Linked DNA regions of Homo sapiens. The protein of the gene in region 2 interacts with the protein of the main gene of each other region in a biochemical or structural test. Each region holds a gene or a part of one and is shown on either strand. Other genes may lie near its edges. The genes, in order: CTCF, CELSR3 and REST.

Region 1 (10,452 bases), on a different chromosome or scaffold from region 2:
AATAGAGACCGGGCTTGGTGGCTCATGCCTCTAATCCCAGAACTCTGGGAGGCTAAGAGTTTGAGACCAGCCTGGGCAACATAGCAAGATCCTGTCTCTCAAATCTCGTTGTATTATGACTATAAATATAGGGCCATTGGGCTGTCCATATTCTGCAACTTTCTTTTAAAAACACAAACATATAACTTGTTTTCCACATGTATCTGTCTTGATAAGGAATTTCAGAGGCTTATCACAGGCTTTACATAGTATTTCCTTTTATGTGATTTAAACAAATGATTTTCAAACATCCATGTCTAATATGCTGTGATCATTCTGAATGTCAATTCATCCAATATAAAACATGAATAATATACTCTCTACATTTCTTGTCTTTCACTGAAGGAATCTTAGAGACAAAACTGAGAGCACAATGCAGTGCTAGTTTCACAGACTAGTGACCATCTGTAATTGTGGGCAGCAGGTAAGGGGTGACAGCAAGGTAGTATCAAACACTAAAACCAAAGGAAGGCTGCCTTTGAGGATACAATTAGGAAGAGCCACAATGTAATGAATAGAACCAGCCATCTGCAGAAATGATTCTCTTTGAGAATGAAGAGAATGCTGGAGAGGAAGAGTGACTGGAGTATAATAAAAACTAAGCAATTCCAAGGAATGTTCATTTGTTCATTCGATTCTTTAGAACCACTATGGATCTAACGGTAAAGCACAGAGTTCTTCCTGTGAAAGTGTATAGTCTGGTGGTATGGATAAGAAGTAAAACAATTAACAAGAGAAGAAAAGTGGCATCCAATTTTCTTTTCGTTTTTTGTTTTTGAGCCAGGGTCTTCCTCTGTTACCCAGTGGGAGTGCAGTGATAGGATCAAGGCTCACTGCAGCCTTGACTTCCCAGGCTCAAGTGATCCTCCTACTTCAGCCTCTCCAGTAGCTGAGACTACAGGCTTGCACCACCATGCCTGGCTAATTTTTTCTATTTTGTAGAGATGGAGTCTTGCCACGTTGCCCAGGCTTGTCTCAAACTCCTGGGCTCAAGCAATCCTCCGGCCTCGGCCTCACAAAGTCCTGAGATTACAGGTTGTGAGCCACCATGCTTGGTCTTCTTTTAGAACAAAGTAAGCTAAAAAATAAATGCTCGTGTTTACCTAGTACTATCCAGGGCAGAGAAAGGCCTGCATAAGCGTGGCAATTAGCAAAGAAGTGGACACTGCTGTGGGGCAGGGAGTTCCATTAGGCTGTGCCACATGACCACCTACATCCCTTCACTCAAGGCCCATCCTCTTTTTTTTGAGACGGAGTCTCTTGCTCTGTCGCCCAGGTTGTAGTGCAGTAGCATGATTTTGGCTCACTGCAACCTCTACCTTCCAGGTTGAAGTAATTCTCTTGCCTCAGCCTCCTGAGTAGCTGGGACTACAGGTACATGCCACCACACCTGGCTAACATTTTTTTTTTCTATTTTCAGTAGAGACGGGGTTTCACCATGTTGGCCAGGATGGTCTCGATCTCCTGCCCTTGTGATCCGCCTGCTTCAGCCTCCCGAAGTGCTGGGATTACAGGCATGGGCCACCATGCCTGGCTTTTTCTTGAGACCGAGTTTTGCTCTTGTTGCCCAGGCTGGAGTGCAATGGCACGATCTCAGCTCACCGCAACCTCCGCCTCCTGGGTTTAAGTGATTCTCCTGCCTCAGCCTCCCGAGTAGTTGGGATTACAGGCATGTGCCACCACACCCGGCTAATTTTGTATTTTTAATAGAGACAGGATTTCCCCATGTTGGTCAGGCTAGTCTTGAACTCCTGACCTCAGGTGATCTGCCCGCGTCAGCCTCCCAAAGTGCCAAAGTGCTGGGATTACAGGCGTAAGCCACCACACCCGGCCACCTGGCTAATTTTTGTATTTTTAGTGGAGATGAGGTTTCATCATGTTGGCCAGACTGGTCTCAAACCCCTGACCTCAAGTGATCCACCCGCCTCAGCCTCCCTAGGTGCAGGGATTACAGGTGTGAGCCACCATGCCCAGCCATCAAGGCTCATCCTCACCAAGTTAGCTTTCAATTGCTACAACATCTTTTTTTTTTTTTTTTTTTTTTGAGATGGAGTCTCACTCTGTCGCCCAGGCTGGAGTGCAATGGTGCGATCTCCACTCACTGCAATTTCTGCTTCCTGGATTTAAGCAATTCTCCTGCCTCAGCCTTCCGAGTAGCTGGGACTACAGGCATGCGTCACCACGCCCGGCTAATTTTTATATTTTTAGTAGAGACGAGGTTTCGTCATGTTAGCCAGGCTGGTCTTGAACTCCTGACCTCAGGTGATCCACCCACCTCGGCCTCCCAAAGTGATGGGATTACAGGCGAGAGCTACGGCGCCCGGCTGCTACAGCATCGTAACAGAGGCAAAGGCGCCCCCTAGAATGCAATGCAACTGCATCTGGAACATGAAAAGGTATACTCCTCACCATAAACTGATACTCTTGGTGTATGCATCTGCTCTTATGGGTTTTGTTGGTATGAATCAGTCTTGCCAAATCTGCTGAGTAACCAGATAGACTGTACCTCTTACTTTCAAAGCTGAAGACCAGATAGAGAATGCCCACACCAAGGCACACCCATCTTGGGAAGTCCTGTTATGGGGCCATTTATTTATTTATTTATTTATTTTGGTGAGGCAGAGTCTTGCTCTGTCACTTAGGTTGGAGTACGGTGGCACAATCTTGGCTTACTGCAACCTCTGTCTCCCGCATTCAAGTGATTCTCCTGCCTCAGCCACCCAAGTAGCTGGGTTTACAGGCGTGTGCCACTACACCCAGCTGATTTTTTGTATTTTCAGTACAGAGGCGGTTTTGCCATGTTGGCCGGGCTGGTCTAGAACTCCTGGCCTCAGGTCATCTACCCCCCATTGGATTTCCAAAGTGCTGGGATTACCCAGTTACTTTTATTTAGTCATATGCCCCATCCTAGTGTCTTCAAAGTATCAAATAAAACATATTATCAAGTGTCTGAGTAGAAATTAGGGAGATGTTTAAAAGTAAGTCACATTAGTGAAGAATGTGCCCATGTGCAGCATACTGTTTATGATTAACACCCACTTGATCATGGTCATCTGACAACCAGCACAACAAATCTAAAACAAGGGTTGTCATTAGAAATTTTTAAAAACCTAAAAATCAAAAACAAGAGTTGTCATATGAAATGAAGTTATTCTGCATGAAAAACCATGTGAGAAGACTTGCAACCAACTTCCTACACTGGGATAACAAATAGCTCAGGAAAGCTTAAAGAGAGGTTTAGTGCACAGAGTCCCTCTACTTTAGAGACCTCAGGGAACCTGGCCACAGCCAACATGAAGCTAATATCAGAATATCTGAACACTAAAGTAAGTAGGATGCTCAAATAAATGTTTGAATTATCAGAATGGTGCCTTAGCTTTTCCATTCTGAAATTATGAATTATCTTCCTTGACGTGAAACAACCAGAAACAAAAAATGTTAAGGTTTGTTTTTGAGATGGAGTCTCACTCTGTCGCCCAGGCTGGAGTGCAGTAGCACTATCTCAGCTCATTGCAGTGTCTGCCTCCCAGGTTTCAAGCGATTCTCCTGCCTGAGCCTCCTGAGTAGCTGGGATTACAGGCACCCGCCACCACACCTGGCTAATTTATGTATTTCTAGTACAGATGGATGTGATTTTGTCACGTTGGCCAGGCTGGTCTCCAACTTCTAATCTCAAGTGATCTGCCCACCTCAGCCTCCCAGAGTGTTAGGATTACAGGCGTGAGCCACTGTACCCGGCCACTTTTTTTTTTTTAAATAAAGGTAGGATTTCACTTCTATTTCTTTTCTTTTCTTTTTTTTTAGACGGAGACTCGCACTGTCGCCCAGGCTGGAGTGCAGTGGTGGGATCTCGGCTAACTGCAAGCTCCACCTCCCGGGTTCACGCCATTCTCCTGCCTCAGCCTCCCGAGTAGCTGGGACTACAGGCGCCCACCACCACACCCAGCTAATTTTTTGTATTTTTAGTAGAGACAGGGTTTCACTGGGATTTCACTTCTATTTCTAACATTCTTCCTCATAGTACCAGGCATCTATTGCCTGAGACTTCTTTTTTTTAAGAGAGAGGGTGTTATTTTTCATTAAATTTTCTTTACATTTGTCTATAATAACTAAGTCCAAGTGCTTACAATAAAATCATGATTACAAAAAGGGCATCATAAGAAATAATAAAAACTTCCTTTAAATTCCCGCTGGAGTCAGCTTGAATGAATACTAAAAAGCGAAGTCTGAGCATTTGCTGTTGTAGCCCCCAACATTCTTATCCAGCACCTGTGTGTGTGTTAAGGTGATTCCTCAGGAGGGTGACTGTTCTGAATGCCCTGCCACAGAGATGGCACTTGTGTGGTCTCTCATCAGTGTGGCTTTTCATGTGACGATCCAAATTTGAACGCCGTGGACACGTGTAACTGCAAAGCTCACACTGGAATGTCTTCTTTACACCTATGTGCAAAATAAAACACTTACTTGCTGCAGAGTTTCAAAGTGTTAAGATTAATCCTAATCTTAAATTTCTACAAATATATTTGATTAGCTTTTAATAACAAAACCCAATATAAGTCATAATTATCTCATGTCACTAATACATTTCCTTCTTCTTTGGGATTAAAAAAAGAGCATTCAATCTGGAAAAAACTTATTTTAGACTGGTTTTAAAGAACGGTACCCACATAACGACCTTTTACAAATACGGTTAATATAAAACAACTTGCATATGCACTGTGTTGTATGCTTATCCCAAAATGGTTTTATGAAACCACTATGGATAAACTCGTTTTACCTTTCTTTTTAATTTTTGTTGGCTTTGGAGGCTTCATATTACCAACCACTTTCTCTGCATTAACCTCTGATAGCAGACCCTCCTGCTGTTCTTCCTCAAAATCGTAGACAGACACATCTACATCTTTGCCCTCCTCTGTATAACGCAGTTTGCTCTTTTTGGTTTTCTTTGTTTTTTTGGCTGGTGGCTGATAGTCTGGGTCTTTTTGCCAACTAGGATCTTCCTGGGGTGGAAGTTCCCCTTGTTCTAGTGTCTCCACCTCTCCATTGGCCCCCACTTTAACCACCTGAAACCCTTCAGGCAAAGGTAGGGTGTGGCATATCATGGGTTCACTTTCCGCAAGGCCCTCTTTAGACACTTCATTTTCATAAGCCCCCTGAAGTTCTTCTACTGAAGTGGTAGCAACAGGTACAGTCACAGGAACAGGTACTTGAACAAGCTGAAGTTCTCCTATGTTTATGGGCTGTTCCTCCATATTTACAACCTGTAAAGTTATAATCTGGGTATCGTCCACAGCAGCCTCTGCTTCTGGAGCCACTGTGCCCTCCATTACTTCAGTCTTCATCTGAAGAAGGGTGGGGTCCAGCTGTTCCATCATCACCATCTGTACACTGCTGTTGACATCCTGGACCACCTCACCCCCATCCGTCTGGTTCTGGGGTAAGTGGCAGGCATCTTCTTCCTGGCCCCCTTCCCGGCGTCTCTGGTAAGTCTTTCTCTCCTTTCCTTTAATAAAAGTTTCGGACTCCTCCACAATGGCTTCGACTGCATCACCTTCCATTTCCCCTGCCTTTATTAAGGGAGAACACAGATTGTTATTTAAAGCAAAGCATGTCTAAATAAAAATATACATTTTAAAACAAAAAGACCCTTTGGTGAATGAATTAGGCATCAATGGTTGTTAATATTAAAAAAGACACAACAGACATGTGCCTCTTGATGAAAGAAACAACCACTACTGGCCAGGTGCAGTGGCTCACGCCTGTAATCCCAGCACTTTGGGAGGCTGAGGCGGGCGGATCACGAGGTCAGGAGATCGAGAACATCCTGGCTAACACGGTGAAACCCCGTCTCTACTAAAAATACAAAAAAAATTAGCCAGGCATGGTGGCGGGCGCCTGTAGTCCCAGCTACTCGGGAGGCTGAGGCAGAAGAATAGCTTGAATCCAGGAGGCGGAGCTTGCAGTGAGCCGAGATTGCACCACTGCGCTCCAGCGTGGGGGACAGAGCAAGACTCCATCTCAAAAAAAAAAAAAAAAAAAAGAAAAAGAAAAAACCACTACCTATAATGCAATTTTGTCAAACAAACTCCAAAACTCTGAAACCAATCAAGTCTCTAGATCCAACCCAATTAACAGGAAATTGGTGACTCAGGATGTTAAATTATACTACAGGGATTAAATCAGTGAAATCCATACCGAGGGAAACACTGCAAGATTATACTCAGGTTCTTCTGCAAATAGATAACAAGAAGAATACAAGGGAAGACTGATTGGAGGGAGAACCAGTAGATCAGTAGTTCTCAGCCTGGGGTGACTTTGCCTCTAGGAACATTTGGCTAACACATTTTTGGTTGTCACTACTGGGCTGGGATGTGCTACTGTTATCTCGTGGGTGAAAGCTAGAGATGCTATTAAACATCCTCCAAGACACAGGTCAGTCCTCCACCACAAAGAATTATCAGGCCAGGCCGGGCACGGTGGCTCACGCCTGTAATCCCAGCACTTTGGGAGGCTGAGGCGGGCAGATTACCGGAGGTCAGGAGATCGAGACCATCCTGGCTAACACGGTGAAACCCCGTCTCTACTAAAAAATACAAAAAAATTAGCCGGGCGTGGTGGTGGGCGCCTGTAGTCCCAGCTCTTGGGAGGCTGAGGCAGGAGAATGGCGTGAACCTGGGAGGCGGAGCTTGCAGTGAGCCAAGATCGCGCCACTGCACTCCAGCCTGGGCGACAGAGCGAGATTCCATCTCAAAAAAAAAAAAAAAAAGAATTATCAGGCCCAAGATGTCAAGAGCACTGAGGCTGAGAAACTCTGATACAGATAAAAGAGTCTTAAAGAGACAGTAATCAATCACAATGCATGAATCTTCTTTGGATCCTGATTCAAACCAATAAATGGTGAAAAAGATGTGACACAAGACAATTAGAAATTTCAACTCTGGATATCTGATGATATTAAAGAATTACTAACAAAACTAATTTAAATCTTACACATGTAGTGGGGAAGACACTGGTAAAGGACATATAATTTCAGTGGGAATAAGTTCAAGAGATCTATTATACAACATGAATATTACAGTTAATAATAACGTATACCTGAAAATAACTGAGAGCAGATTTTTAAGTGTTCTCATCACAAAAAATGACAAGGATGTGAGATGATGCATATATGAATTAGCTTAATTTTCTGCAATTATGGGGTCTTGCCACATTTCCAGACTGGCCTTGAACTCCTGGGCTGAAGCAATCCTCCCACCTAAGCCTCCCAAAGTGCTGGGATTATACATGTGACTGAGCCACTGTGCCCGGGTCTGCCAATGTTTTGTAAAAAGCTTTATTAAGGTAGCTTTATTAAGCACGTGGTGGCTCACGCCTATAATCCCAGCACTTTGGGAGGCTGAGGTGTGTGGATCACCTGAGGTCGGGAGTACGAGACCACCCTGAACAACATGGAGAAACCCCGTCCTAAGTAAAAATACAAAATTAGCCAGGTGTGATGGTGCATGCCTGTATGTAATCCTGGCTACTTGGGAGGCTGAGGCAGGAGAATCGTTTGACCCGGGAGGTGGAGGTTGCGGTGAGCCAAGATTGCGCCATTGTACTGTGCAGCCTGGGCAACAAGAACGAAACTCCGTCTCAAAAAAGAAAAAAAAAAACACTAAATACACCTCCAAAATTTCCTTGTATTTTGTTTTTGGTGATAATATTTATCATGAGATCCATCCTCAACATAATTCAAAGTGCATAATGCTATACGATTAATACAGGAACTATGTTGTGTAGCAGATCTCTAGAACTTACTCATCTTGCATAACTGAAACTTTATACCCACTCAACAGCAATTCCCCATTTTCCCCACCCTGTCAAGGGTTTTTGACCTTGTTTTTTGAAGCCAAACTCAGAACTTAGATCCAGACTGCAATGGCCGTGTTTGTAGACACTGCACAAAACTGCCCATGTCATACCATCAACTTGACATTCACCTCTCTCCTGACAATGAGATCAGGAATTCCCTGAGAATAAGAACCACATCTAACAAGTCGTTTTTTTTTTTTTAATTTTTTTTTTGAGACGGAGTCTCGCTCTGTTGCCCAGGCTAGGGTGCAGTGGCACGATCTCCGCTCACTGCAAGCTCCGCCTCCCAGGTTCACGCCATTCTCCTGCCTCAGCCTCCCGAGTAGCTGGGACTACAGGCGCCCACCACCATGCCCGGCTAATTTTTTGTATTTTTAGTAGAGACGGGGTTTCACCATGTTAGCCAGGATGGTCTCGATTTCCTGACCTCGTGATCCGCCTGCCTCGGCCTCCCAAAGTGCTGGGATTACAGGTGTGAGCCACTGCGCCCAACCGGTTTTTACTTTTTTTTTTTTTTTGAGTCGGAGTCTCGCACTGTCGCCCAGGCTGGAGTGCAATGGCGTGATCTTGGCTCACTGCAACCTCTGCCTCCCAGGTTTAAGTGATTCTCCTGCTTCAGCCTCCGGAGTAGTTGGGATTACAGGTGCCCACCACCACACCTGGCTAATTTTCTGTATTTTTAGCAGATACGGGGTTTCACTATGTTGGCCAGGCTGGTCTTGAACTTCTGACCTCGTGATCTGTCCGCCTCGGCCTCCCAAAGTGCTGGGACTACAGGCGTGAGCCACCACGCCCAGCCACGGTTTTTACTCTTTAGCACTGTGCCCAGGATGGTAAGTACTCAATAAATGCCAACCAAATTGAATATATAATAGAAAGCAGAAAACAAATCAGCCAATTCATAGTTTTTGGCTCTTATATCTTGTGAATGGGCCGGGCACGGTAGCTCACGCCTGTAATCCCAGCACTTTGGGAGGCCAAGGCTGGTGGATCAGTTGAGGCCAGGAGTTCAAGACCAGCCTGGCTAACATGGCAAAACCCCATCTCTACTAAAAATACAAAAATTAGCCAGGCGTAGTGGTGTGCACCTGTAATCCCAGCTACTTGGGAGGCTGAGGCACGAAAAGAACTTGAACCCTGGAGGTGGAGGTTGCAGCGAGCTGAGAAAGTGCCCCTGCATTCCAGCCTGGGCGACAGAGTGAGACTCGGTCTCAAAAACAAAAAATAAAAAACAAACAAAAATCTTGTGAATGACATTACCTAAACAAGAGTAAAATAGGGGCCAGGCGTGGTGGCTCAGGCCTGTAATCCCAGCATTTTGGGAGGCCGAGGCGGGCAGATCACTTGAAGTCAGGAGATGGAGACAAGCCTGGCCAACACGGCAAAACCCCGTTTCTATTAAAAATACAAAAATTAGCCAGGTGTGGTGGCACATGCCTGTAATCCCAGCTACTCAGGAGGCCGAGGCAGAAGAATTGCTTGAACCTGGGAGGTGGAGGTTGCAGTGAGCTGAGATTGGGCCACTGTACTCCCTCCAGCCAGGGCAACAGAGCGAGCCTCTGTCTCAAAAAAATAATAATAATTAAAATAAAATAAAACATATATAGCTGAGTGTGGTGGGGTGTGCCTCTAATCCCAGCTACTTGGAAGGCTGAGTGAGGCTCGAGAATTGCTTGAAGCCTGGAGGCGGAGATTGCAGTGAGCCGAGTGCCACTGCACTCCAGCCTGGAGCCTGGGCGATAAGAGTGAAACTATGTCTCAAAAAAAAAAAAAAAAAAAACCCAAAACAAAACATTGAAGTGTTTTGTATTTTTGGCCAAGAATACAGCTCAAACGAAGCTTTTGTTAGTTCTATTAGACACACTTTTCTCCAATTCTCTGTCTAGGCACCTTAACATTGTATTATATCCATGATAGCAGTCAGAGAAGACTCCTTAAGCCAGGACCACCTGAGAGGCAGCACAAGAACTACTACAGAGAGAATGACATTACCTAAACAAGAGCAAAATAGGGGCCGGGCGTGGTGGCTCACGCCTGTAATCCCAGCATTTTGGGAGGCCTGGTCCTACATTCTAGGAGTTACTGTCTAACATAAAGGACAAAATAGGTAGCACAATGGTTCAAGGTGAAATTACATAGGTTTGGAGAAAGATAACATAACCAGGTGTGATAGAAAAATGCTTCATAAATGTGGAATTTGAACGGAACCCTGAAACGTGAGCAGGACATTTAAAGGCAGAGTTTGACAGTGGAGGGCAGAGGATGTATTCTGTAGGGGAAAGGTTTGGATTTCTGGGTACAATAAATACATGTGGGAATTAGTTATGAGTAAGAAAAAGAACTGGCTTAAAGCACAGGACAGAGGAGAGGGTAGTAAGACAGGTGAAAGATGTGCTGGTTGCCCCCCATAGTTTGGATGGTCTTGAATAACAAAATACCTCAGATGACTGGCAATGGAAAACCACTTATGCTTTCTGGGCAGAGAAGTAAAGATTCACTCATTTCACAAAGAAGAAGACTTAATTTCCTCAAAAAGTGTGTCTCTACTTTTGCAAAAAC
Region 2 (11,176 bases):
CAAGTGGACCTCTGGACATTTTCCCAAAGGTCAGGGTCTCAGGCCCTACGAAGCCACTGTCCACCTGAAGCTTCCATAGTAAGCTGCTGTTCCTGACCACTCAAGTATTGGTCATTTCCTGCACAGATAGGGTAAGCGTCAGACTGGACCCAAAGTAACCCTTCGTCTGAACATGGGCATAGTGTGGACTGACTGGCCCATACTGGCTTTGCCTAGGACCTCCAGAGGATTACCCCAGGACCTCTGACCTTTTATCAGGAGGGGAGATATCCCTAGGTAGCAGACAGTTCTTTACAGGCTTTATGGGGTCTGCTAGATGCCTTGGAATCACTGGGATTCTGTGGAGATTATCCAGGAACCTAAGCAGAGTCCTTGTGAGGTCTGTGGCAGATCTTGTAGGGTGCAGGAACCCTACCCTTAAGGGGTTCTTGGAAGGCTTAGAAATCCCTCTTTGGTTTGAGGTGCCCTGTGGAGTCCCTGAGGCCCAACAGGTTGGTGTCACTGGGTCACTTGCCTGCCCCCTGCCCCTCACCTGTGACAGTCACCAACATGGAGGCCACCAGTGGGCGGTTATTGTCTAGCTTTCGGCTGAGTCGCAGCTCCCCACTGGTCTGGTTGACTACCAGCAGCTGCAGCTCATTGCCACGCTCAAAGGAGTAGAAGAGGTGGTCGGAGACATCGGGGTCATAAGCTGGGATGCGCCCAATAATGCCCGACGGGAAGGTGTCTGAACGGTTGGATACATAGTTGTTGAAGAGGATCTGGAAGTTGTTGAGCACAGGGCTGTTGTCATTCTGGTCAACCAGGCGGACGTGCACAGTGGCCCGGCTGACCAAAGGAGCAGATGTGGCCTGCACCACAATCACATATTCTTGGCGAGCCTCATAGTCTAGGTCAATGAGTGCCGTCAGTTCTCCAGAGAAGATGTCCATTTGGAACAGCTCAGGGATGTTCCCCTCCACGATCTGGTACATTATATGGGCATTGGGGCCTTCGTCAGGGTCCACTGCAGTGATCTGGGCCACCACTGAGCCCACAATGCTATTCTCTTTCACCCGCACCTCAAACTCCTCAGCTGGGAAGACAGGTGCATTGTCGTTCACATCCTGCACCATCACCTGGATACTGACTGGAGTCCGGAGTGGGGGCACACCTCTGTCCACTGCGTAGGCAGTCAACTCATACACTGATACTGCCTCCCGGTCTAGCCGCCTTACTGTACGGACAATTCCAGAGGTGGGCTCAATGGTAAAATCTCCATCCCCATCTTCACCATTCTGGAAAGTGTACTGGACCCGGCCATTGGCATGAGCATCCCGGTCAGTGGCTGAGATCTGCAGGACACTGGTGAAAGGTGGGGCATCCTCAGAGACCAGCCCTGTATAGTGGGAGGCCACAAATTGTGGAGCATTGTCATTCACGTCATTGACCATCACCTCCACATAAGTAGTGTCTGCCTTCTGTGGGATGCCATTGTCCCGAGCTGTGATAGCCAGGGTGTAGGTCACCTGGTCCTCATAGTCTAATGGGGCCTGTAATGTAATGGCTCCTGAGTCTGCATCAATGCGGAACTGGGGCAGGTTGTCCTCCAGGAGATAGGTGATACGAGCATTCTCACCCACGTCATCATCAGAGGCACTGATGACCACTATGGTGCTACCCATTGGCCGATCTTCATTCACACTCACTGAGTAGTGGGCACTTTGAAAGACCGGCCGATGAGTGTTGGCATCTGTGATGTTGATGTGCACATAGCAGTGATCATGAAGGGCACGGTCAGATGCAGTTAGTACCAGCTTGAAGTAGCGTTCCTGCTTGTAGTCCAGTGGCAGAGCCAGAGTCACCAGACCCACACCCCCCTGGGTGCTGATGGCAAAGCGATTCCGGGTGTTGCCGCCTGTGATCTGGTAGCTGATGGCACTGTTGGCATCACGGTCTACTGCGGTCACGCTGACCACACTGGTGCCCACAGCTGCATCCTCATTCAGTCGTAGGTGGTACTCCTTCATTGTGAACTCAGGCCGATTGTCATTAACGTCCAGCACAGTCACGGTGACACTGGCTGAGGCAGAGAGTGGGGGTGAGCCATGGTCTCGAGCCTCCACACCAAAGAAGTAATGCTCCACAGACTCACGGTCCAGGGGACCACTCACAGAGACCCAGCCAGTGGCGCTGTTTATCACAAAAGGAGTATCAGGTGCCACACCAGTTAGGGAGTACTCCAATCTGGCATTCTCCCCATGGTCTGCATCGACTGCCTGAATGTGGATGACTGAGTGACCCAAGGGAGCATTTTCCAAGACAGAAACTTGGAAGGGCGTGCTGACAAAAATAGGAATGTGGTCATTGATGTCCACCACCTGGATGCTGGCCAGGCCCGTGTTGTTGGACAGCGGTGGCCGGCCAGCATCCTGCGCCCTGATGCGCAAGGCATACTCTCTCTCTGCCTCGAAGTCCAGAGGTGCCACCACCTGGATCTCGCCAGTGAGGCTGTCGATGGCAAAGTGTCCACGGCTATTGCCACTGATGATGTTGTAGTGCACCAATCCGTTGGCGTCCTTGTCCCGGTCAGTGGCCGTGACGCGCAGCACGACTGTGTGGGGGCGCACATCCTCGCGCACCTGCGCCACGTAGCGCTTCTCGCTGAACTGAGGAGCATTGTCGTTCTCGTCTAGCACAGTTATGTGTACGCGCACAGTGGCCGAGCGCGGCCCGGGTTCCTGGCCCTGGTCGCTGGCTTCCACCACCAGCTCATAGCTTTCCATGTGCTCGCGGTCCACTCGGCCGCTGGTGCTGATGAGGCCGGAGCGTGGATCAATCTCGAAGGCGGCGGCAGCTGCAGCGCGCGCAGCTGGCGGCCCCACGAAGCGGTAGCGCAGGTTGGCGTTGGGGGGCGCGTCGCCGTCAGTGGCACGCAGCTGCAGGATAGGGTAGCCCTCCTCCACATTCTCGCGAAGGGTCTCCCGGTACTGCGCTTGCTCAAAAACCGGCGAGTGGTCGTTGCGGTCGGCTACTGTCACGGCCACCATCGTGGTGGCCGAGAGGCGCGGCGACCCGTGGTCCTGCGCGGTCACACGCAGGTAGTGACGCTCCATGCTCTCGCGGTCCAGAGCTGCCGCCGTACGGATAAGGCCGCTCTGCGGGTCGATGCTGAACAGCTCCAGCGAGCGGCTGTTCATGAGTGCCGCCAGCGAGTAGACTAGGCGCCCGGCCTCGCCGGCGTCCGGGTCCTGAGCAACCACGCGTAGCACCGCGGTGCCTGCTGCCTCATTCTCCGGCACCAGCGTCTGGTAGTTGTACTGCGGAAACTGCGGGTGGCGGTTTGCGGCGCGACGAAAGCGTGCCCGGTTCGCCGAGGTTACTTTCCTGGCTTCAGGACGGGCCGGGAGTCCCGGGGGACGCGGCCCGGGGCGCTGCGGGAGGAAGCGGCAGCGGAAGAGACCCCGGGAGCGCATGCGCTTGGGCGCCGGCTCGGGAGCTGTCCGAGACTCGCGGGGTGCTGAACCTGATGCAGGAGCTGTCCTCGCCGTGCGTGGTGCTGAATCCAGCTCGGGGCCAGATCCCGAGGCCCCTGGAAGACAGTTCCGCCGGGGGGCTGTCCTTTCTGCTCCGGATGTCGTGGCTCTCTCGCCCTGACCCTTGCTCCCTGTTGCCCATAATTCCCCACAGCAGCGCGCGGTGCCCACTCTTTTGCGGGAGCCTGTCCCAGCGTTCCGCTGGGAGGACACCGGCTTGGGACCGTGGTGCCGAATCAAAAAGTCTGAAGGGAGGGGCGAGCTGTTCCCCGAGCCCGGGACCCCTGAGGACAGAGCCCCTGGTGACAGACTACCTCTTTGCAAAGGTCCTGTCCGCCCGCAAGAGGAGACCTCTGGGCGCCAGTATAACACAGACCCTGGTCCCTGTCCTGTCTCTCGTTCGCGGCTGCCCAATGGCTGGACGCCGTGTTCAATCCCCAGCTCCTCATTCGGCTGCTCAGGGGGCCCTCGACTATTCCGGGCGCTTTGCCTTCTCCCTCGGAGCCCCACGAAGATAGGCTCCCTGACCCCCAGGCCAGGCCCCCCATCCTCCCGGACCCCGGAAGACTCCGGACAAAGAGCTAAGGCTCCGCCACCGATATGCGCCCTTGGCCCCGTAGTGGCAGCTAAGCCTGGGTCCCAGCCCTGGTGCCCACCGCCCCCCAGCTCCTCCTGGCTGAGGGGGAACAAAGAGAGGAGAAGGAGCAGGAGTATGGGGGTCGACCGTCCCCCGAGGCCCCGCCACGGCGGCCGCCTCGCCATCATCCCCCGCCTCCCTGCACGGCCTCCACCGCCCCCCGCCCCGGTCCGGGCCTTGGGCTGGCCCCGCCGCTCGGGCCCCCTCCCGGGCCCCTGCCGCCGCCCCGGGCCCCCGCCCCTCCGCCTGTCTCTCCGCACCCCCGCCGCCCTCTGGGCACCATCTACTCCGCGGCCGGAGCCCCTCCGGCGTGCGGCCCTGGCTTTTTCCGCCCCCACCACAGCATCCCCGACGCTGCTGCCGCCTCCCGCCGCTCCAACATGGCTCCCGGCCGCCCCGATGGTTCGCTCCACCTCTGCCCCGGCGCCCGAAACACGGTGGTACAACCCATCGCGCATGGCAGCTCTGAGGACCGAAGATGTTGCCGCCATCTTTATTGAGGACGTGAGCGTTGCTCCTGGTGCTGAACAGAGCGCGAAGGTTCGCCGTCGTTGGGTCCGCCCTCCCCACTTTCGGTCGCCGCCTTCACCCACCTCCCTCCTTCTAGGGCGCTGTCCCAGCTCCGTCTCCCAGCCTTTTTCTGTCCTTCCAGATCTCTTGTTCCCCCTTCCTGACCACTAGTTCTGAACCGTGTCCCGGATTTTGGTCTGAAATTTTGGTGCCCATGAGCGTTCTCATAGCTCTGGGAGGGGGTACTGTGTGAAATCCTGGGGTAGAGGGGACGATGGCTGGAGAGGGGTCTGGGGTGCCAGCACCCCGAACAATAGCTTTAACTATCCCATCAGCTAGTTTTATGAAACATGTCGCGACCACCTGCTTGTTTGGATCGCCCCTGCGGAGCAGGGACCAGAGATGACCCTCCCGAGGCGGGAGCAGAGGCCAAATTCTTCCCTGCCTTGCTGGTCCCCAGCAGTCTCCCGGGCTCGGGGCCCCTTCACTGGAGGCTGCACCCCCTCCCAGGCTGCGAGTCCCGAGTGCTCTGGGATGCCACGTGGAGCCCGGCGTTGCCCCATGGCTGCGGGCCCCGCTTCTTCGGGTCCCCGCCCCTCGTCCGTCACGACCGCATGCCTTAACCCCTTGAAGGGACTGACACAGAAACTCAGTCCTCCCCCCACCCTCGGTGCATTCCAGCTCTCCCTGCGTAACTCCTGGCACGCGCCGGTCTCGCCAGGCCAATGGGTGGACCTGGCGCAACAGACGTCACGAGAGGAGCGGAGGCGAGGGGTGAACGCGGAGCACTCCAATCGGTCAGTCATTGTTTCTATTGGCACAATGGGAGGCCCCGCCCCTCACGGCGGACTCATCGCATGGGGGAGGGGGCTCCGCGGGTTGCCGGCTAACCGTGAGAGAGTCCGGGAGGTACACTATACGGACCGGCCTCCAAAGGCGGAATCGATAACGAGCTGCAGCGCCGGGTGCAGAGGACGCGGGCATCCCGAAGCCCAGGAAGAGGTCAGGGCCGGGACCCCAGAACGCTCCACAGGGTGCGGCTCCCGCGATGGGGTGGATCCTGGTTCTAACAGGCGAGGAACTCCTGGCCAAGGCCTCTGGCCCGCCCCGAACGGTCCCTATGACATCACCATCAACCAATCAGTCGGCGCATCCTTTCGCCCCTTGACTGCTCCGCTTCCGGGAGGCGGGGCTTCTGCGGGTTCCACCTCCCGAGCGCCCCTTGTGGCTACCAAGGTCAGGCAACAGGTGTCCAGTTGTTCCCTCTCCTGTCTACGAATCTGAGGACCTCCCCAGGATCAGAGCTCTGGGCCTGATACACGGCCGGGGTTCCTACGGGTTTGTGAGTGGGGGTGGAAGATCTGCAGAGGCACTTAGGGCTGAACTCCTTTGAATGGGAGCCAATCGGTGCAGGGGCTGGAGGAGCGAGTCCCCCAAAGTAGTTTTATTTATCTATTTAGAGACAAGGTCTCACTCTTTCGGAGTGCAGTGGTGATCACAGCTCACCGTAGCCTCGAACTCCCCAGGCGATTCTCTCACCTCAGCCTCCCGAGTAGCTGGGACTACGGGTACATGTCATCACACTTGGCTAATTTTTGCATTTTTTATAGAGACAGGGTCTCACCATGTAGGCCAGATTAGTCTTGAACTCCTGGGCTCAAGCAATCCGCCCATCTTGGCCTCCCAAAGTGCTGGGATTATAGGTGTGAGCCACCGCGCCCGGCAACCCAGAAGTGGTTTTGACAGCACCAGCGCTTTCTGTGTCCACAATCTAGTGAGTAGAGGGCACAAAACCTGACACCACGGAGGCAGACAGGCAGGGGCTCTGCCGGGGAAGGGTGTTGGAGTCCCAAAGGAGGCGTCTGAGTCACCTTCGCAACCTGGGACGCCTTCTTGCATAAGATGCCTGAGCAGTGCCTTGAATGACCAAGGGGAGATCCGCATCTGCAAAGGAAGGGCAGGGAGGGATAGGGATTGGGGGTGGGCATCCTAGGTCTTGGAGACTGTGTGGGCAAATGTGCAGAGACATAAAGGGACTATGGCTGAGGGAAATCAAGCCCTGCCCTCTCACCAATAGGGCTGGCGCTGGTCCCAGCTAACACTCCTTTTGGAGAGCAAAGCTCCTCACTTCTGAGTAGTGAGATTGATTGCGGATCACTCTCCATGTTGCTGCCTGCTGTGTGTCATCCCACTGTCATCCTCCCTTTGTGGCTGTTCTGTGGAGCCCCTCTCCCTCAATCTGCACTCACCTCTATGCCCCAGCCCCATTGGCAGCTCCTAATGCACTCCCGGTAAAAAAAAAAAAACAAAAACCAGATGTTAGTGATAGTGGTGGTAGTTCTTCTCTCCACCTCCAAATCTTGCCCTTGCCTCCTAATAAGACCCCTATGTGGTTTAACCTCATTTTTTTTTTTTTTTTTTTTTTTTGAGATGGAGTTTCACTCTGTCACCCAGGCTGGAGTGAAGTGGTGTGATGGGGCTTCACCATGTGATGGGGCTTCACCATGTTGGCCAGGCTGGTATCAAACTCCTGACCTCTAGTGATCTGCCCGCCTCAGCCTCCCAAAGTGCTGGGATTACCGGCATGAGGCACCGTGCCCAGCCTATCCTCCTTCTCTTATCAGCTCCCAACTAGAGGTCCACCCAGGACCCAGAGACCTGGATTTGAGGCTGCTGGGCGGCAGATGGAGCGATCAGAAGACCAGGGTAAGGGTGTGGCAGATACTGCCACTAACACTTCTCAGCCTTTCCTTCTCCTGCCTTTTCCACCCCACCCTGTGTTTGTCTACTCCCAGCCAGGTGTACCTTTCCAGGGGAAGACCTGGCCAACCTGTCCAGCTCAATTATCCAGCAGTTCTTTGACCTCACTGAGATCTCGAGTCCATTGTTCATCACCTCAGCTATTGACCTGTGTCATTAGCCTTATAGAGTTCAGTGCCACGGAAACTCCCTGCCCTGTTCTTTTTCTTTTTCTTTTTTTTTTTTTTTTTGAGACAGAGCCTTGCTCTGTCGCCCAGGCTGGAGTGCAGTGGCGCGATCTCGGCTCACTGCAAGCTCTGCCTCCCAGGTTCACACCATTCTCCTGACTCAGCCTCCCGAGTAGCTGGGACTACAGGCGTCCACCACCATGCCCAGCTAATTTTTTTTTTTGTATTTTTAGTAGAGACGGCGTTTCACCGTGTTAGCCAGGCTGGTCTCGATCTCCTGACCTTGTGATGCTCCCGCCTCGGCCTCCCAAAGTGCTGGGATTACAGGCATGAGCCATTGTGCCCGGCCTGCCCTGTTCTTCTTAGACAAACTTGCTGGGCTAAAATCTAACCCCGTTAAAATAGACTATTTACGTATTGTTTGCCTCTAGCGCAGCAGAACATTGCTGGAGAAAAACAAACAACCGTGCTAATTGGTCTCATTTTATATTCATGACCACAAGCCTCAGTATTATATCGGAGGGCCTATCCAGTGCAGTAGGGCAAGAAAAATAATAAGTTATGAAGATTGGAAGGGAAAAAAAACTAATTCACAAGCAGTAGGATTGTATATGTAAAAATTTCAAAGGAACCTATAGGTAAGTTGTTAGAATGAGTTCAGCAAAGTTGTTGGACACAAGATCAATATATAAAAATCAGTTGCAATTTCTATATGTCACCAACAGTTAGAAAATAAATTTCTTGCCTGGGCATGTTGGCTCAAGCCTGTAATCCCAGCACTTTGGGTGGCCAAGGCGGGCAGATCACCTGAGGTCAGGAGTTTGAGACCAGTTTGGCCAACATGGTGAAATCCCGTCTCTACTAAAAATACAGAAATTAGCCGGGCGTGGTGGTGGGCACCTGTAGTCCCAGCTACTGAGGAGGCTGAGGCAGGAGAATCACTTGAACCTGGGAGGCAGAGGTTGCAGTGAACGAGAAAAAAAAATTTTTTTTCTTAAAAACAATGATGTTTACAATAGCATCAAGTAATATCAAATGCTGAGGAATAAACCTAATGAAAGATGTGCAAAGACTACATACACACATACAAAAAAACTATAAAACATTATTGAGGGAAATAAAGACATAGGCCTGGCATTGGTGGCTCATGCCTGAAATCTCAGCACTTTGGAGGGCCAAGGTGGGTGGATCATTTGAGGTCAGGAGTTAGAGATCAGTCCGGCCAACATGGTGAAACCTCATCTCTACTAAAAATACAAAAAAATTAGCTTGGCCAGGTGCAGTGGCTCACACCTGTAATCCCAGCACTTTGGGAGGCTGAGGCGGGCGGATCATGAGGTCAGGAGATCGAGACCATCCTGGCTAACACGGTGAAACCCTGTCTCTACTAAAAATACAAAAAAAAATTAGCCGGGCCTGATGGCGGGCGCCCGTAGTCCCAGCTACTCGGGAGGCTGAGGTAGCAGAATGGCGTGAACCTGGGAGGTGCAGCTTGCAGTGAGCCTAAATTGCGCCACTGCACTCCAGCCTGGGTAACAGAGCGAGACTCCGTTTCAAAAAAAAAAAAAAAAATTAGCTGGGCATGCTGTTGTGCACCTGCAATCCCAGCTACTCTGGAGGATGAGGCAGAAGTGCCTGAACCTGGGACACAGAGGTTGCAGTGAGCCAAGATCATGCCATTGCACTCCAGCCTGGACAACACAGCCAGACGCTATCTGAAAAAAAAAAAAAAAAAAAAAGTAAAAAAAATGAGAAATAAAGACATAAATAAAGTGAAAAATTGTTCCAATATTGGAAAAGTCAATATTATAAAGGTGCCAATTTTCCCAAATTGATATATGGATTCGATGCAACTTCAGTTAAAAATCCCACTAAATTTTGGCTGGGTGCGGTGGCTCACACCTGTAATCCCAGCACTTTGGGAGGCTGAGGCGGGCGGATCACAAGGTCAGGAGATCGAGACCATCTTGGCTAACATGGTGAAACCGTCTCTACTAAAAATACAAAAGTTAGCCGGGTGTGGTGGCGGGCACCTGTAGTCCCAGCTACTTGGGAGGCTGAGACAGAATGGCGTGAACCTGGGGAGGCGGAGCTTGCAGTGAGCCAAGTTGACGCCACTGCACTCCAGCCTGGGCGACAGAGCAAGACTCTGTCTCAAAAAAAAAAAAAAAAAAATCCCACTAGATTTTGTGTGTGTGTAAACTGACAAACTAGATTTAGCAGCCTGAGCAACACAGCAAAACCCCATCTCTACAAAAAATACAAAAATTTTGCACATGCCTGTATAGTCCCAGCTACTTGGGAGGCTGAAGTGGGAGGATCATGTGAGCTCTGGGGAGGTCGAGGCTGTAGTGAGCTATGATCACATGCTGCACTCTAGCCTGGGCAACAGAGCAAGAGACCCTGTATCTAAAAAAAGAATGAAAATTAAAAAATAAAAAGAAACCAAGATTGTGTGGTACTGGTACGAGGATAGGAAGACTAAAGGAACGAAATCCAGAGACAGGCCTGAAGATGTGTGGAAACTTGAATTTTGACAAGGGTGGTTCTTCAGAGCTAACATGAAGAAAGGGTTGTTTTCTTTTTTTTGTTTCCCCAGGAGCAACTCTATTAACTGAAAGAATAGGCTTTTCAATAAATGATGCTGGGTCAGTTGGATATCCATATAGAAAAAATTAAATGAGATCTCTATTTCACACTGCTTGCATAATCAATTCCATATAAATTTGACATCTGAAAATATACAGTTTCTAGAAAACAGTATTAAGACCTTGTTTTGTTTTTTGTTGTTGTTGTTTTTTGTTTTGTTTTTTGTTTTTTGAGACAGAGTCTCGCTCTGTCGCCAGGCTGGAATACAGTGGTGCAACCTTGGCTCACTGCAACCTCTGACTCCCTAGTTCAAGCAATTCTCCTGCCTCAGCCTCCCGAGTAGCTGCGATTACAGGCACATGCCACCACGCCCAGCTAATTTTTGTATTTTTAGTAGAGATGGGGGTTTCACCATGTTGGCCAGGATGGTCTCGATCTCCTGACCCTGTAATCCGCCCACCTCGGCCTCCCAAAGTGCTGGGATTACAGGCGTGAGCCACTGCACCTGGCCAAGAGAAGATCTTAAAGGTGACTTTAAGCAAACTTTTTTTTTTTTTTTTTTACAGAGACGGGAGCTGGAGTGCAGTGGCTGTTCACAAGCGTGAAAGCAAAGATTAAAAAATTTGTTTTTATATTAAAAAAGTTTTTAGAGATGGGGGTCTCACTTTGTGGCCCAGCCTGCAGTGCAGTGGCGCGATCATAGCTCCCTGCTGCCTCGACTTCCTAGGCTCAAGGGACCCTCCTGTCTTGGCCTCTGAGTAGCTGAGACTACAGGTATGCTCCACCACACCCGGCTAATTTCTTTACTTTTTTGTAGGGACAGGGTCTCATCATTTTGCCCAGGCTGGTCTGGAACTCTTGAGCTCAAGTGATCCTCCTGCCTTGGCCTCCCAAAGTGCTGGGATTACAGGCATGAGCCACCACAGCCAGTCAAGATTTTTTAACAGGACAGGACTGTCTAACAGGATTGTCTAATAGGACATAAAATACACTAACTA
Region 3 (10,850 bases), on a different chromosome or scaffold from region 2:
GGAGGCCAAGGTGGGAGCATCACTTGAGCCCAGGAGTTCAAGACCAGCCTGAAAAATAGTGAGACTATGTCTCCACAAAAAAGAAATTTTAAAAAATTAGCTGGGTGTGGTAGGTCGTACATGTAGTCCCAGCTACTCGGGATGCTGAAGGGGGAGGATCGCTTGAGTCCAGGAGGCAGAGGTTTCAGTGAGCTGAGATCATGACACTGCACTCCAGCCTGGGTGATGCAGCAAGATCCTGTCTCAAGAGAGAAGAGGGAGAGAGAGGAAAAGAGAGAGAGAATTCCAGGTGCTCAGTATCTTTGTCGCATTGTTTTTTTTTTTTTTTTTTTTTGAGACGGCGTCTCGCTCTGTCGCCCAGACTGGAGTGCAGTGGTGCAATCTTGGCTCACTGCAACCTCCGTTTCCCAGGTTCACGCCATTCTCCTGCCTCAGACTCCCAAATGGCTGGGACTACAGGTGCCCACTAACACGCCTGGCTAATTTTTTGGTACTTTTTAGTAGAGACAGGGTTTCACCGTGTTAACCAGGAAGGTCTCGATCTCCTGACCTCGTGATCTGCCCGCCTCGCCCTCCCAAACTACTGGGATTACAGGTGGGAGCCACTGTGCCCGGCTGTAAAGTGCTGTGTTTCGATCTCAGCTTGCTACAACCTCCACCCCCTGGGCTCAAGTGATCTTCCCACCTCAGCCTCCCGAGTAGCTGAGATCACAGGTGCACACCACCACACCTAACTTTTTGTATTTTTGGTAGAGACAGGGTTTTGCCATGATGCCCAGGCTGGTTTTGAACTTCTGACCTCAAGTGATCTGCGCCCCTTGGCCTCCCAAAGTGCTGGAATTATAGGCATGAGAACCGCACCCAGCCCTTGTTGCATTTTATACTTAGCTTTTTAAACTTTTAGCCATTCTAGTAGGTTTAGTGATAATTTTTAGACAAACAAGGAAAATGTACAGGTTCATTAATCTAGGAAACATTTATGCATAAAGCCAGTGCCTGGCTTTAGCTTTGGGTTGATACACTTTGCCAGAAGTTTGATTTTATTTACTGTGTCAGGAATATCAGCATGTTGAGAACACACAACACAGTTTCTTGTCTCTAGACCCTCTCAGACAGATGAGAAAGACATGGGAAAGAAAACAGGCGCAAGAGTATACTTATGGCACTTTAGGAGTTCATGTGGGAAGGTTTTAACCTCTCCTTGGGAAGAAGGGAAAGGTTGCCAGAAGTTGTCTTCTGAGTCAAGTCCATATTCCTCTAAATTGATGATTAGCTTTGTAAATTAACATGTCAATGTTGGCTCTTGAGTGTTTTAAATGCCATGGAAGACAATAAGGGCTTCTGCTTCCCAAGCCAGAAGGTAATAAATCTTTTTTTTTTTTTTTCGAGACGTGGTCTTGCTGTGTCACCCAGCTGGAGTGCAGTGGTGTGATCCTGGCTCACTGCAGCCCCAATCTCCTGCACTCAAGCAATCCTCCTACCTCAGCCTCCCAAGTAGCTGGGACTACAGGCACACCTCACCACACCAGCTATTTTTAAAAAATTATTTTTACTAGAGATGAGGTCGCACTGTGTTGCCCAGGCTGGTCTCGAACTCTTGGGCTCAAGTGATCTTTCCACTTCGGGCTCCCTAAGTGCTGGGATTACAGGCGTGAACCACTGGGCCTGGCCCAGAAGGTAATTAATCTTAATATAAAAAGTAGGCTTCAGAGTTATGGAATTGCGGATCTGAAAAGTCCCCCTATCTCAAATATATACATCTCTAAAGCCATTGTACATAGTGGCCCATCAGGCCCCAAAGATTAAAAGATGTTTTCGGGAATAGGGCCAGGGTAGAGCAGAAAGAAGACTGGACAAAGTGTCTGAGAGACATGGAAAGAGCACCGGACTGGCTGGAAATTGAGTCATGGGTCCTACCTCCATCTGTGCCCTAACTACTTGTGCAAACCTGGACAAGCCAAAAGCTTGTAGGCCTGTCTCCTTTTACATATAAAACAAGAGCCTGCACCTCTAAGATCTCTTGCATTTGTGACATTTTGTGGCCTACATAACATTTGGAGGGAGAATTCTGGAAGGAAGGACAATGGTAAAGGCCAGAGAAGAGAGAGGCAGAGCAATGCAGTTGATAGGCTATGTAACTTGTATTTAAACCCATCAAATGGAACGATACCTAAGGTTGAAACATTTTTTTTTTTTTTTGAGATGGAGTTCTGTTCTTGTTGCCCAGGCTGGAGTGCACTGGCACGATCTCTGCTCACGCAACCTCCGCCTCCCAGGTTCAAGCCATTCTCCCGCCTCAGCCTCTTAAGTAGCTGGGATTACAGGCGTGTGCCACCATGCCCAGCTCATTTTGTATTTTTAGTAGAGACAGGGTTTCTCTATGTTGGTCAGGCTGGTCTAGAACTCTCGACTTCAGGTGATCTGCCTGCCTCAGCCTCCCAAAGTGCTGGGATTACAGGCGTGAGCCACCGCACCTGGCCAAAACAGATTGTTAATGATCACCAAGGAATATCCAACCAGAGGCTGATGCGTGAAATCAGGAATGTGCTAGGAATACAATATGCAGAAGAGCAGGCAGGGAGATTTTCACCAGGAGGGTAGAACCCCAAGACCAGGGATCCAGGAGCATTAATTTATTTAACAGTAGTTATTAGGGAGATTCAAGGAGGCAGGCTCATGCTTAACATGAGGGAAGACTGTGATGGGTACTGAACGTTGGGTACCGACATGGGTAAGGATGGTCCCCACTTTGAGAGATTGTGATACCAAGCTAGGATTTTGTAACCATTCATCTAACTAATATTTGTTGAGCAACTAACGAGTTATAGGTGCTGGGGATAAAAAAATGTCTCTGCCTTTCTGGAGCTTAAGTTCCTAAGTAGGGTAAATAAATAAAAATACCTAGCATGTTAGTAATAAATGTTAGAGACAGAAACAGCAGGGAAGGGCATTAGGATTGGACGAAAATGGGAGCAGAAACAGCAGGGAAGGGCATTAGGATTGGACGAAAATGGGAGCGGGTTCCAAATGTGATCTAGGCTCCAAAAGAAGGCAGGAAGGAGCCCAGCTCAAGTCTCAAGTTCTCTTGTTCACCTCCTTCCCTTCTCAGCATGAAGGGAAAACCTCCCTGGCTCAAGCTGTTGATGCCTATAATGAGTAAGACACTATTCCAGTTATCAGAACCAGAACAAGAGGTCAGAGTCCAACCGGCAGCAAGAGTAGATGATGCTGGCTGGACTCGGTGGCTTACACAGGTAATCCCAGCACTTTGGGAGGCCGAGGCGGGTGGATCACCTCAGGTCAGGAGTTCGAGACTAGCCTGACCAACATAGTGAAACCCCATCTCTACTAAAATACAAAAATTAGCTGGGCGTCCTAGCGGGTGCCTGTAATCTCAGCTACTCGGGAGGCTGAGGCAGGAGAATTGCTTGAACCCAGGAGGCAGAGGTTCCAGTGAGCCAAGATCTTGCCACTGCATTCTAGCCTGGGCGACAGAGCAAGACTCCCAGGCGGGGTGGCTCACACCTGTAATCCTAGCACTTTGGGAGGCCCAGGCAGGTGGATCATCTGAGGTCAAGAGTTCAAGACCAGCCTGGCCAACATGGTGAAACACCATCTCTACTAAAAATACAAAAATTAGCCAGACAAGGTGGCACGTGCCTGTAATCCTAGCTACTCGGGAGGCTGAGGCAGGAGAATCACTTGAACCCGGGAGGTGGAGGTTGCAGTGAGCCGAGATCGCACCTTTGCATTCCAGCCTGGGTGACAGAGCAAGACTCCATGTCAAAAAAAAAAATAATATATATATATATATATAATTGGCCAGGTGTGGTGGCTCACGCCTGTAATCCCAGAACTTTGGGAAGCCGAGGCAGGCGGATCACCTGAGGTTGGGAGTTCGAGACCAGCCTGACCAACATGGAGAAACCCCCGTCTCTAACTAAAAATACAAAATTAGCTTGGCGTGGTGGCACATGCCTGTAATCCCAGCTACTCGGGAGGCTGAGGCAGGAGAATTGCTTGAACCCGGGAGGCGGAGGTTGCGGTGAGCCGAGATCGTGCTATTGCACTCCAGCCTGGGCAAAAAGAGCCAAATTCTGTCTCAAAAAAAAAAAAAAAAAAAAAAAGAAAGAAATCTCTCTAGAGAAAATACTATTAAGAACATATGATAATTAAAATAAAAAAATTGATGAGTTAAATATGCAGGAAAAAAACCATATAAGAAAAGCAGAACTCATTCTCATTTCAGAGTTTTTATCTTGCAGAAGATCCTAAAGTTTGGATACAGCAAAGTAAAATACAGACTTTTGAAAAACAGTTAGGAATTCAAGTTCATAGCAACAGCTTCCCTCAAGAAAATTTTCAATTGATTTGTAATTTGGCCTATGAATTTGACCTGTGGCCTTCATGTCATGATAATTTGGGTCACTCTGAATATGCCATCCCTTGAACAAGGGCCTCTGCTAATTTTAAATGAATGCAGCTGCCCATTCGCCATTCTTCTATTTGCATCACAATATGTGGGAATAAATTTGCAATTAATAAGACATTTCCAGTAAGCAGTCAGATTGAGGAAATGAAGGACATTTAGTAAGTTTAACAAGAGACATTTCATTTTTGCCTTTTTGGACCTAAAAAAGGGAAAGAAAACAAGTTTATGTCTTTGACAACCTTGGTAGAGGCCTGAATTGTACCCTGGGCTACAGCATCTAAAAAAGCCATGTGACCTCAAACTTGATTTTAGTTAAACAAATAAAATATATATAGAAAAGTTTGTACCAGTCCTAAAAATGTCGATCTTCCTTTCCTCCCTCCCTCCCTCCCTTCCTTCCTGTCTCTTTGGTTCAATGAAAATGAATACTTTTCAGGTTTGATTCATGGAGAGGTGTTACATTTGAAATTGCCTCATTGAAACTTTTGGTGGTCGAGCACCTTAGGGTCTTCATTTCATCTTGCATCGGAGACTGCATTAATTAGTAATATATTGTCCAGATAGAGGGAAACAGAGGTCCTACGTGGGTATACCAGGAAATGAAGAGTCTGGAAGCCCTGCCCTAAGAGAAACAAATAAAGGAACTTCAAAGAGAAGGAAGTGAGGTACCCTGAGGAGAAGCTGGGATGTCTTAACAACTGCTTTGGGATTTTGAGCTTGCCCTTTTCACTGTGTAGAGTGTTCCTTGCCCTACTTTCCACCTGTTGAAGTTTTCCTCATTCTCCAAGGTCAGACTGAATACATCTACTGTGAAAAGTTTCTAGAACCTCTTGGGATCCATCTTCCTACTGGCAAACCCCCATAGCACTTGCTACTTATGTTGTAATACCAAGCAATAGTCAGACTTATCTAGGTCAAGTTAAGTAGGGGCTTGAACGCCACACTAAGGGGTTTAAGCTTTAAGCTTGTAGTCATGGGGAGCCACTATGCTTCTGAGGACAGGTGTGACTTACGACTGACGTTTAGGAAGGTATCAAAGGCAGACTGAGAAGCTCTTTCAGGTGTGAAAGGGGGTGGAATTACTCTCTCTCTGTTCTTTTTTGTTGTTTTTGTTTTTGTTAGCACATGACTATGGGCTAGGCATTCCGCTTGGTTATCCCGCTTCATAGACGTGAGCCCGGTTACTCCGACACACCGTGGCCCCAGGCAGCCTCCCCGTCCTCACCACCTTTTCTTCTGTCATCTGAGGGTAATTCCTCCCCTGCAGTCGTGCTTTCCGGGCTCAGCAATGACCTGCTACCTGCCACGTCTAGGGATCTGTCCCCTCAGTCCTCACGCTCACGCTTTCTGAGTCCATAACCTCCTTCCTGAAACGTTTTCTTCTCACTTCTCCCAAACTGACTGCATTCCCCCTCCGGTAGTTTGAAATTTGGAAGACTTTTTTTTTTTTTTTTTTTTTTTACCGCAGACGCTTAAAACGAAGCTTAATTAGTCAAGGACAGCTATGGGTGGAGACTTGAAGAGATCTGAAGGGTATCTTGGAGCGCTTTAGACTTGAGAGGCCGGTGACAATAGCTCTAAAGAGACCCGTCAAAGCCTGCGGATTCTTCTTTTAACAGCTCTATTCTCATGCATGCACGCCAGGGCTGGGGGGAACTTTTGTTGTTTGTTTGTAATAGAAATCGAGAAAGGGAGTGGGGCCCGCCTCTTTTCTGACCTAAGGGCAGGAGTGAGGGGCCGGGAGGATTACGGGCGGCTCCCCCTAGACGCGCCCCCAGGCGAGCTGGAGACTGGGGCACTCCTTGCTTGGTAGAGGGGCGGGGCGCGCCTAGCGGCCACGCGCGCGGGCGTCGGAGGGGGCGTGTCTCGCGGGCGCGCGCGGGCGTCGGAGGGGGCGTGTCCCGCGGGCGGTGGCGGCGGCGGCGGCGCGGACTGGGTGCGCGGCGCAGCGTCCTGTGTTGGAATGTGCGGCTGCCGCGAGCTCGCGGCGCAGCAGCGGAGCGAGCGCCGCCGAGGCCCGGGGCCCCAGACCCTGGCGGCGGCTGCCGCAGCCGAGACGGCAGGGCGAGGCCCGGAGGCCTGAGCACCCTCTGCAGCCCCACTCCTGGGCCTTCTTGGTCCACGACGGCCCCAGCACCCAACTTTACCACCCTCCCCCACCTCTCCCCCGAAACTCCAGCAACAAAGAAAAGTAGTCGGAGAAGGAGCGGCGACTCAGGGTCGCCCGCCCCTCCTCACCGAGGAAGGCCGGTAAGTGGGGCGCTGGGCTGGGGGCTCGGTCAGGGTGGGGGAGGGCCGCCCGGGCGGCGGCAGTGGCGGGACGGGGAGGGCGCGGAAGGACGCGGAGTCAGGCGCTGTCCAGGGCTGATTTGCAGATACTGTGGCTCCGGCGGCGGCGGCCCCGCCGGGCGGGGGCTGGCGGCCGAGCAGGATCGGGTTACACAGCAGCCGCCCGGGGGCTGGGGGCGTTTGTTGGGAGCAGCGCGTCGCCTGGACCCCCTCCCCACTGGAGGCTGGGACGCCGCCTCCGCGCTGGCCCGGACGCTCCACCGAGTCAGGTCCTTTGAGGCCAAGGAGCGGAGCTGCTCGGGCCCGTAGTCCTGAAACTTCCTCTGCTTCCTCCTCCTGCCCCCGGGTCCCACCGCAGCCCCGCGCCGGCCCGCGGCCCTCCTGGCCCCCTCCCCCAGGGCCTCTCCCTGTCGCCGGAAGGCGCCGTTGAGTGCGGCCGGGCGGGTTGAGTCAGCCCCGGGGCCCGGGCGGTTCCGCCTGCGGGGCTGGACAGCGATTTCTGCGCTTCAGCCGTCCGGCGCCGCTGGCCCCCGCGTCCGGCCACCCGACCGCTGGAGCTGGCGGGGCTGGGGCGCGCGTCCTGCCGGGCGCCGTGGGGGAGTGAAGTTCGCAAACTTCCGGGGCGCGGGGGTGGCGGCTGGCCCGTGTGGGGGCCCCCTCCGGCGCTCGGAGCCCGACGCCTCGCGAGGGCGCCCGCGGAGCCTCCCCGGCCCTGGGCGTTGGGCGAGCCCCGGGGCGGTCGGAGGGGCCCGGGGGCGGTCGGAGAAGCCCGGACGCCGGCTGCGCGGTAACTTTCCGTCCTCTCCCGGGACGGGGGCCCTAGGGCTGGGGAGGGGGCTGCCTGGACTCGGGGAGGACTGGTTCCGGCCAAACAGCGCCTCGAGCTTGATCCCCTCCCCCGTTTTAGTGTTGGAGAGCGCAGGAAAAGGCTCAGGACGAGTGTCGGGGCGACTCCCGCGAGTTGGTGTGTAAATGTGTGCAGTGAGCGGGCCGAGGCGAGAGGAAGCGAGAGCGCCCGAGTTTGCAAAGAGCTGCTTTGTGTTTGGTATTTTGAGAAAATGGCCGAATGCCTATTTCAGTTAGGAATGCCGCCGCCGAGGCAGGCGCTGGTGGCAGCAGCACGGAGGAATTCGTGCAGCACGTTGGGCTTTCGGGCTGTGCCTGGACGGTCTTCCTAACAATCGTTAAAATTCCATTTGGGGTGGCAGTTAGGGGTTAGGGAGCAATTAGAAAAGTCGATGTTGGGCCAAATTACCCAATAGCTTGGGCTGTTCAGCCCCGGGACAGCCTTCGCCCTCTGTTTTCTGTGATGGCATTTGCTTCCAACTTTTGTTGGTACGTAGAACTAAACCGGTTTGTGTTTATACACTTGGGTGAAGCGGGTTACTTTTTGTATTTTCGGTTTAACTTTATTTTCTTAGAACTTCTTACTTTTTTTAATTTGCGAGTGAACACTTCGTTTGAGAATGGCACCTTTTAGATTGAGAAGTAACGTAGCATCTAGAAAGCCCAACTTGTTTTGAAGAAGGTGATCTTGTAATGGCTTCCACTAGGCAAGTAGGCCAAGTCAAGCACAATGCAAGAAAGTTGCTGATTGTCGAGTTGAGTTGCACGATGATTTTATTCGTATTGAAAAGCTTGGAATTCAGTGTTGTGGAACTTCAGCCTGCAGAAAAATAAGCTTATTAATTTTTATTTGTGAAGTTTTGAATAAATCAAACTTCCTTTTTCACAAGAAAAGGGGTCCATAAATGTTTTTTCTTTTAAGCCTGTGGAGTTGTCGAAAAATTAAGGGGCTGACTGCTACTTTTTCACAGTAGTTTATTCTTTTGGAGTTAGTTGAGTTCATGCGAAATCCAATTAAGTTGAACAATTATTACAGGCTTGTACTTTCCAGATGTGTTTGTGTACTTAATAAATGCACTGAATGGCTTGTGGATTTCTGGGCTTTCTGATTCAGACCATTGAACTGTTGAAGGGGGGAAAAGTTGGGAGGACAATAATTTACTACTCATGTTTTGAATTTTTAAAATAATTTTAACAGTAAAAATGAAGGTTACTTTTTATCCCCACCAGAACAATTAAAAGTGCTTGAGGAGGCACCACATGCCAGTGGCTGAATGATGAATGAGTTGTGCAAACAATTGGTAGAATTGTTTTATAGGGATAGTAGAAATTTTTTTTTGGTGATTGCAGTAGACTATTGGGAATTAACAACTATTTTAAAGATTTGTTTTTAATAGGCGATGAAGTTTACTGAGTTATAAAGATCATACTGGAAAATTTTTAAGTTATGAAGAATTACAGCGATGTGGTTTTAAGCCAGTAACAGTAGTGTTTAAACTGGTGCTCTTGTTTTGTTTTGTTTTTAATTCAGAATACAGTTATGGCCACCCAGGTAATGGGGCAGTCTTCTGGAGGAGGAGGGCTGTTTACCAGCAGTGGCAACATTGGAATGGCCCTGCCTAACGACATGTATGACTTGCATGACCTTTCCAAAGCTGAACTGGCCGCACCTCAGCTTATTATGCTGGCAAATGTGGCCTTAACTGGGGAAGTAAATGGCAGCTGCTGTGATTACCTGGTCGGTGAAGAAAGACAGATGGCAGAACTGATGCCGGTTGGGGATAACAACTTTTCAGATAGTGAAGAAGGAGAAGGACTTGAAGAGTCTGCTGATATAAAAGGTGAACCTCATGGACTGGAAAACATGGAACTGAGAAGTTTGGAACTCAGCGTCGTAGAACCTCAGCCTGTATTTGAGGCATCAGGTGCTCCAGATATTTACAGTTCAAATAAAGATCTTCCCCCTGAAACACCTGGAGCGGAGGACAAAGGCAAGAGCTCGAAGACCAAACCCTTTCGCTGTAAGCCATGCCAATATGAAGCAGAATCTGAAGAACAGTTTGTGCATCACATCAGAGTTCACAGTGCTAAGAAATTTTTTGTGGAAGAGAGTGCAGAGAAGCAGGCAAAAGCCAGGGAATCTGGCTCTTCCACTGCAGAAGAGGGAGATTTCTCCAAGGGCCCCATTCGCTGTGACCGCTGCGGCTACAATACTAATCGATATGATCACTATACAGCACACCTGAAACACCACACCAGAGCTGGGGATAATGAGCGAGTCTACAAGTGTATCATTTGCACATACACAACAGTGAGCGAGTATCACTGGAGGAAACATTTAAGAAACCATTTTCCAAGGAAAGTATACACATGTGGAAAATGCAACTATTTTTCAGACAGAAAAAACAATTATGTTCAGCATGTTAGAACTCATACAGGTAAGAGAAGCTTTCTAGTCCATAAGTTCAGTTCTCTTTTCTGATTGTTACTTGAGTGGTTAGTTAAGTAGTGCTTGAGAAAAAGGACTCTGGTTCAAATCCAGGTTCCATTTTGCTATCTTTGTGACCTTGCACAAGTTGTTTAACCTCTTTGTTCAGAAATTTCTCCATGGAGTAACAATATCTAGGTTGGGAGGATTATGTGAAGTTACATGTAAAGCACAGAGGAACAGCCAAGAGATCTTACCGTGGTCTTACTAAAGTACATATCCTAACTTGGGGTTTACCTTCAGCAAGTTAGACTGGCCGTGCATGGTGGCTCACGCCTGTAATCCCAGCACCTCGGGAGGCCGAGGCGTAAGGACTGCCTGAGCCCAGAAGTTCTAGACCAGTCTGGGAAACGTGGAAAGACCCCCGTCTCAAAAAGAAAACAGAAAAAAAAAAGTTTGTGTATTTATTTCTGTGACAGTGAACACATTTAAGATGCAGTGTAGTTTCTGAAAGAAATTGAGGGCTTATATAAAAAGGAAAACTCAGTGATTAACCTTGCACATGCCCACTTAACAAAAGCCTCAAACTTTAAAACATTTGACTTATAGCATTGAGTTCCTAAATGGAACAACTTGTCTTTGTCCACAAAAAAGAAATGTGAGAAGGTAGTTTTTAAAAGGTGGGTGGGATTATCACCAATTGAAACTATTTTCCTATGAAAGCAAACACTTGTAGAAAATGTATTTTTCAGACAATTATGTTTAGGGTGTTTGAACTGATACTAAGCGCAACTGTATAAAAAAAGTTGAAACTTTTTTTTTTTTTTTTTTTTTGAGACAGTCTGGCTTTGTCGC

The links.
Region 1: the proteins of CELSR3 (region 2) and CTCF form a complex in vitro, tested with the Homo sapiens proteins (one study listed by BioGRID).
Region 3: the proteins of CELSR3 (region 2) and REST form a complex in vitro, tested with the Homo sapiens proteins (one study listed by BioGRID).

What each region holds. Positions count from the first base shown.
Region 1 is NC_000016.10:67,605,978-67,616,429, reverse strand, and holds part of CTCF (transcriptional repressor CTCF), read right to left. Parts: intron 5,607-10,452; 5' UTR 5,598-5,606; coding exon 4,817-5,597; intron 4,480-4,816; coding exon 4,309-4,479; intron 1-4,308.
Region 2 is NC_000003.12:48,658,355-48,669,530, forward strand, and holds the start of CELSR3 (cadherin EGF LAG seven-pass G-type receptor 3 precursor), read right to left. Parts: upstream 4,533-11,176; 5' UTR 4,281-4,532; coding exon 533-4,280; intron 1-532. UniProt on the Homo sapiens protein: Receptor that may have an important role in cell/cell signaling during nervous system formation.
Region 3 is NC_000004.12:56,901,532-56,912,381, forward strand, and holds the start of REST (RE1-silencing transcription factor), read left to right. Parts: upstream 1-6,368; 5' UTR 6,369-6,682; intron 6,683-7,378; exon of another isoform or gene 7,379-8,056; intron 8,057-9,098; 5' UTR 9,099-9,107; coding exon 9,108-10,005; intron 10,006-10,850. UniProt on the Homo sapiens protein: Transcriptional repressor which binds neuron-restrictive silencer element (NRSE) and represses neuronal gene transcription in non-neuronal cells.